Homo sapiens: one gene and its partner. The protein of the gene in region 1 purifies or fractionates together with the protein of each later gene. This does not show direct contact. Each region holds a gene or a part of one and is shown on either strand. Other genes may lie near its edges.

Region 1 (2,705 bases):
ACTTCTTCCCTGGTTGGAGTGAGAGGGGCTGTCCACAGCCCCATCCTGTGGGGATCTCAAGCCGGAGTCCCTGGCCTGGCCTCCTTGACGTAGGTGTTCTCAGCAAGCAGTTTGCATCCCACCGTCTTTCTCACACTTGCCCCCAAGACTTTTGACAGAGCAGACGTAAAACAGGACTCAGAAAACCATTTTTCTCTGTTCCCATATGTAGTAAGTTTTGATTCAGTTGTGCATAAACCATAGTTTTCTGCCCTGCTGTTTGCTTTCAATGGAAGACAGTAAAGGGAAGATGGTGCTCACATCTCTCCATGTGACATCTCATTAGGAATTAAGATGCGATGGATTAGAAATGTAAAACTTCAGAATAAAATTAAATTTCAGGGCTCTATAAGTCCCGTTTTCCCAGGTCCTGTTCCGTTTCTACGTAGATAACCCAATTTGTTTTGTCTATGAAATAAGCCTCTTTAGTGGGTTGTTTTAGTCTCTCCAACAAAAGAGCAGATTCCTAAAGCCAGGTGCAGCACTGTGAAAAGTTTCTTTCAATATGGCACCAAGACTCTACCATTTATGTCTCTCTCAGCTTACAAACATCAGCGTTTTGTCCTTGTCATAGTGGAAGAAAGACACTTACTTTAAGCTTTGGGGACAAAGGTGACAAACCCCAGGCTTTTATCTTAAAAGTGTCTTTGGCACTTCTTTTGGCACTGAAATGGTATTTGGGAAGCATTATTTGAATGTACAGTTGTTTGGTTTTGTATGTGCTTATCTTTATCTGAGCTTTCACTTGTAGACATGGCCTTTTGTTGTGAAGTTGCTCATCATTTAGGAGTGTTTAATTCTAAAAAGCCTTCAGCCTAAGAAAGCTTCATCTGTGGGGACCAGAGACTTGTTGCTCAGGGAGTTAGTGATGGGACTTGGGCATCTGATCTGCAGGTGACAAGTTTAGTTCAACTGAAGTTGTAGGGAATTTAGACAGTTGCACATCATTGCCGTTCTAGGGGCCTTGTAGAAAGATGAAACAGTTGTTTTTCATTTACCAGCACCTCTCAGTTATAGAGGTAATGGAACATTCGCTTACTTTTCATCATCATTCTTTAAAAAGGGAACATACAAAAATCTAAACTATGGCAATAATTTATTTTTATAATAGTTTACGGTAGGCTTTAATTAAATGGCAAACTCCTCTGGGACCCCTAAGTTATGGCGTGATTAGCCAAATTTGATTTCCAACAGTCATTTATGGCCATAACTATTGCATAGAGTGCAGGATGCCAGCAAAGATGAGGGTGGGGGCAGATACTGGCTCAGTGATTTAACTCACATTATAGATGACCCCTTCCTCAACAGAAATGCTACTGAGAGAACCAGAGAGGCCTGGGCCAGGCAGGTCTTATTTGAGAGGAGATTATTTGATAATTGCTTTGGTTAGAAGGACTTTACATTTCCTGATTTCAAGTCCAGCACCAATTTAGAAAGTTCAGAGATGAAACCACCTGTCTTTACCTGACAGAGTCATAACGGTTTGTGTAAAAATGTGGTCAGGGACCTTTTTTGTTCTTTCTGATTAGTTAATACTGTACATTGTAACCAGGAGGGGCAGTTTTGCCAACCAGCCTCTGCTCATGGTCACCATATGTGTATGACAAGGCCTGAGTGAGTTCCTGCATAAACTGGGTAGTGGGCTCTTTTGACACATTTGCAAGCATGTAAATGAATGAATGACACTACCAGCAACCATCTGTACAGGTCCATTTACTTACATTCATAAGGTTTATGCTATGAAACTTCTTCTCATTGTGATGTCAGTAACAGAGTTAGTGTCTCTGATGGAATAGTGTACCTGTCACCCAAGTTATTTTGTTCCTTTTTGGGTCCTCCAGTATAATCCCCCCCTCATCCCAATTAACTGTAAAATGTTTTACACATCACATTTTTTATACTGTAAACTTGGAAAATAAACTGAAATATCAAATTGTGTCTTGTTTCTTTTCTTCATGTGATTATTTCAATCTAAAAAGTTGCTTACTTTTTCAGGGACATTTTTCACTCTCGCATAATTTTGAGACCTTCAGAATTTCAAGACAACCTGTCATATTTCTATAAAAACCAAGACAATTGTGATGGATTGGGAAAGTAGAATTACCATTGTAACAAAAACTACTAGTTGTCAATCATTTTACAGTGAAGAAAATGTTTTGAATAGATAACTAAAAATGAAATCCTCAGGCTCTAAAACATGGAGATGAAACAGATCTTTTGAGTAAACCAGCAAGTGGAAAGGTATTTGAGTCAAATAAGAAGACAGAAAAGTAACAGACTTTGGGTTGATGTGGGAGGTGAATATTGGATTATTTTCCTGAGTGGCTTGGGAATTCAAGTTAAATTATCAACTGATTTTAGATAGGTCTATTTAAAGGAAATTTGATTATTTGCAAAGAAATATGAAGCCTGTTTTCCGCTAACCTCAGTGGTAGAATTTTGACAGCACACAATCAAATTCTTAGCTATTGCATGGACAGAAATTAGAGAAAGCAATTGACTCAAAGATATTCATTGGTTAGATTATTGATAAGCTGTTTCTTTGGGCCATTAAGCAAAATGTACACAATTTATATCTACATAAGTAAACCCTGCTAATACACTTTGTGCTATCATTTGGATATTTGTTCCCACCAAATCCCCTGTTGAAATTTAATCCCCAGTGC
Region 2 (3,829 bases), on another chromosome or scaffold:
TATGGAAACCTGAAAAGAAACTGCCAGACCTTTTCCCAACATGGTTATACCATTTTACAGTCTCACCAGCAAAGAATACAAGTATGAGATTCCAGATACTACAGCCCTGTCTTTCCTATCCTAAAGTCAAGAGCATGGTTTGACTAGTGTTCTTCTGGGGCCAGAGGGAATCTGAGGCAGTGGGGAACATGTTTTTATAGGTGGAGGGGCCATAGGAAGTCCCTGACTCTGCCTGAAAATGGGTTTAAACTTAAATCATTGCAGACGATCAGATGAATATTTTATTTTTAGAGATTTTCAGAGAAGGGAATTCCATAGGGGAATGTACCCTTGGTTGTGAAAGAAGATTGATTGAGTGCTTTCTATAAAAAGAAAAATAACCCCAAGCCCCACAGAATTTTACTAAGCTTCTGCCTAGAAACTCCCGGGGGATTTCTGGTCTATTGGTAGGGTTGATATTAACTTGGTGGAGAGTCCCCTTGGATTTCACCGGCTTGGTCAGCCGGCTACTGAAAGGGGTTGTGTTTATTTTGAGGGGCAGGTCAGATTTGGCTTTGTTAAGACTCAGAGAATGACTCTCTTGTGAAAGTGATCTGGCCTCTCAGTGAGAAACATGGCCTGTCAACACCCCTCTTATTGTCCTGACTGGGAAAATGGGCCTGTGCCCCTCGGGTCCCCTAATAACTTAGTCCCTCTCTGTGGTGCCAACAGCCAAAGCTTGCCTTGGCTGATCTAGGAAACGGGAAGTGAACTTTTCTGTCTGAGTGGGACCCCAGGATGCATGTTTTGCATCCCATCAAGGTGTCCCAGGGCTGACCAAGCTTTGCAGGAGTCAGATGGCAGACAGCTCAGTCTTGAGACATTGCACTGTGTTTGGGGACTGTTCCCTCCTCCTTAAAAGCCTAGCGCAGTGCCTGCCAGAGGGTAGGGACACAGTAAACATTGGCTGAGTGATTTCGTGACTCGTGATACCCATCTGGGTGATCGCCTCTCTGGAGGTTGACAGTGGGTGTCAAGATGTCAGGGCCCCAGGATGTATTTTACTCGAGGGCACTTTACCATGGCTTGGAAAACACATTCAAAGGGTTTGGGCCTAGGAAAATTTTGTTCAGTGTAAACTTTCATTGTATTAACACTGTTCTCTTTATTACTGATTTTAATATTGTTAATAAAATACAAATAATTATAGCTGCCACTTGCTGAGTGCTTACCCTTTGCCAGGCACTGTTGTACATTTTGCACGCATTATCTGAATTTAATCCTCATGAGAGGCGAGTACTTATATTATCTTCACTTCAGCCCTGAGGAAATTGAAGCTTGCAAGGTTAACTTTCCCTAAGTTCACGTTTTCATTTTTCTAAGACCTTAAGGGAAGAGACTGTGACATTCTGGTTTTTTGAAGGCAAAATCTGTCTACAATCACGGATTTCCAAATACACAAAGCCATATTATAATAGAAATGTAAATTAGATAATCAGAACAGCGTTACAGGAAATGATACACTGCAATCATTTTCTTTAGTTTTTTTTTGTTGTTGTTTGTTTGTTTTCATTTTGTCTTAAGCTTACTGAGTTTGGCACAGCCAGGGGCTTATACTAATTTTGATGATAATTTAAAATATTATTGGTTGATTAGGATTACAATTTTATTGAAGGAACAGAAAGACGTTGCCAGCTGAACTGTTCAATACAGTAGCCACTAGTTACATGTGGCTATTTACATTTAAATGTAATGAATTAAAAGAAAAGAAAATTTAAAATTCAGTCCTTCCGTCTCACTCACCGCATTTCAAGTGGCCCAGAGCCACGTGTGGTTAGTGGCTACTGAATTGGATAGCACAGATAGTAGTTTCATCATTGCTGAAAGTTCTGTTTGACAGTGCTGCTCTGTGGTGTTTTTTTTTTACCCTTCAGTTTAAGAATTGGTAACACACTTGGCTAGGGCTTCTGCTATTTTTCACTGACAAAGGGATACATTTAGCCAGATGTTGCTTTTGTGTTTACCTTTTAAAGGGGTGTGTGTGTGTGTGTGTGTGTGTGTGCGTGCGTGTGATCTTTCCTTCCATTCACATTCAGTTTTTGACATACGTTTGAATCTCCCTTTTCTCCTGGGCCCCAAAGGGGCTTTCATTATTAGCATTGCATGTTTTATCAAGACACTTTCTCATAAAAAATTGGTACAGCAGGCAAGCGATAGCCACTGCTTGAACCCGGCTAATTCCTTGCTCTCCAAATAAGAATTCAGTTCAGCTTTTAAATATGCAATTGTGTGACTTACTCCCTACCTGGGCTGAATTCAGGAGGAAAAATCACTCTCAGTGGGCCAGAACCAAAGAGCTGGAAAATCAGGTGACATTCTGCAGTGATGGCTCCCTGCCAGGACTGAGATGGAGGAGACACCATTTGGGGTACTTGAAAGCTTCGTTTAGAGTTTTCCTGGATTTGACCTGCCTCCGGGGTGCAGGGATTGATGGAGAAGGCTGGCAGCTTTGATGTCCCAGTTACATGGGACAGTGGAGGGCTGGTACTGTGGCTGTCACCTCTGCTGGGGTGTACAGTACTTCAGAACCAGCCTCACAGGAGAGAGGAAGCCACTCCTCAGGTGTCTGCAAGCAGCAAGTCCAGCCAGAAGTGGGAAATCAACATAAGCTATGCTTGGCTCAGTTGTTTGATGCCGACAAACTCTTATGCTACTTTAAGATCCCGTATTGGAGGTTTCCACACTTCTTCAACCAGGAAGCCAGATGCACCTCACTGACAACTTTCTCTGGCGTTTACACCTGAAATGTCCCGTCGTGTTGTTCCATAGGCAGACCTCCTTGAGGGTTACAATTTATTCTTTACGGGGGCCTATCAGCTTTCATATGTGTGCATGTGTGTGTGTATATATATGTGTGTATGTGTGTGTGTGTGTATGTATGTATGTATGTGCGTTTGTGTGTGTTTGTGTGTATGTGAGTGTATGTGTGTGTTTGTGTGTATGTGAGTGTGCATGTATGTGTGTATGTGTTTGTGTGTATGTGTGTATGTGTATGTATGTGTGTGTATGTGTGTGTTTATGTGCATTGTGTGTGTATGTATGTGCGTGTTTGTGGATGTGTGCATGTGTGTGTGTATGTGTGTGTGTGTGTGTGTGTGTTTTGAAACTCCCTACTTTGCCTTTTACCCTTTGTCCTGAGGAATCCTTCAAGTTTTATGGAATAGCGCTAAAGTTCCTCAGATTTGGGGGAACTGTTGTAATAGATTTTACTCAGAAAGTTGGGTAAGAGATTTGGTTAATCATAGACTCTGGTTAATGGAACCTGATCATATCATGTATTAGCAAATTTTGGAAATATAAAGCACAAGAAATCAGGTTGTTTATTTAAACACTTCTTTAATTTAGAGAGGTCTTTTGGGATTTTCTGGTGTCTTATGATACCTTATAAGTGCCCTTTTCAGTGTGGCATAATCATGACTATAGGCCAGAGTAGGTCAAAAGGTGTCTTCATAATGAGCAACAAGTAATCCCAGTAGAGTACTAAAACGGTTAATATTTATACTGCTCTTTCTATGTGTCTGAGCTCTTCTGAGCCCTGTTAAATAGTAACTCACCCTACCTTATTTAGTCCTCACCCTAGAAGTAGATATTGCAGTTGTCCCCATTTTACAGATGAGAAAACTGAGGTTAAATGGCTTCCTTGAGGTCACACAGGTAGGAAATAAGGGCAGCAGGATTTGAACCTAGTCAGTCTGGTTCCAGAGCCTGTATGACCAACCCCTGTGCTGTACTGTTAAGAAAGTGAATTTGAGAGCCACAGATGGAATATTCCAAATGCCCTTTACCATCC

Evidence for each region.
Region 2: the proteins of VANGL1 (region 1) and RFTN1 purify together in Homo sapiens (co-immunoprecipitation; one large-scale study listed by IntAct). This does not show direct contact.

What each region holds. Positions count from the first base shown.
Region 1 is NC_000001.11:115,696,250-115,698,954, forward strand, and holds the end of VANGL1 (vang-like protein 1), read left to right. Parts: 3' UTR 1-1,972; downstream 1,973-2,705.
Region 2 is NC_000003.12:16,506,909-16,510,737, reverse strand, and holds part of RFTN1 (raftlin), read left to right. Parts: intron 1-3,829. UniProt on the Homo sapiens protein: Involved in protein trafficking via association with clathrin and AP2 complex.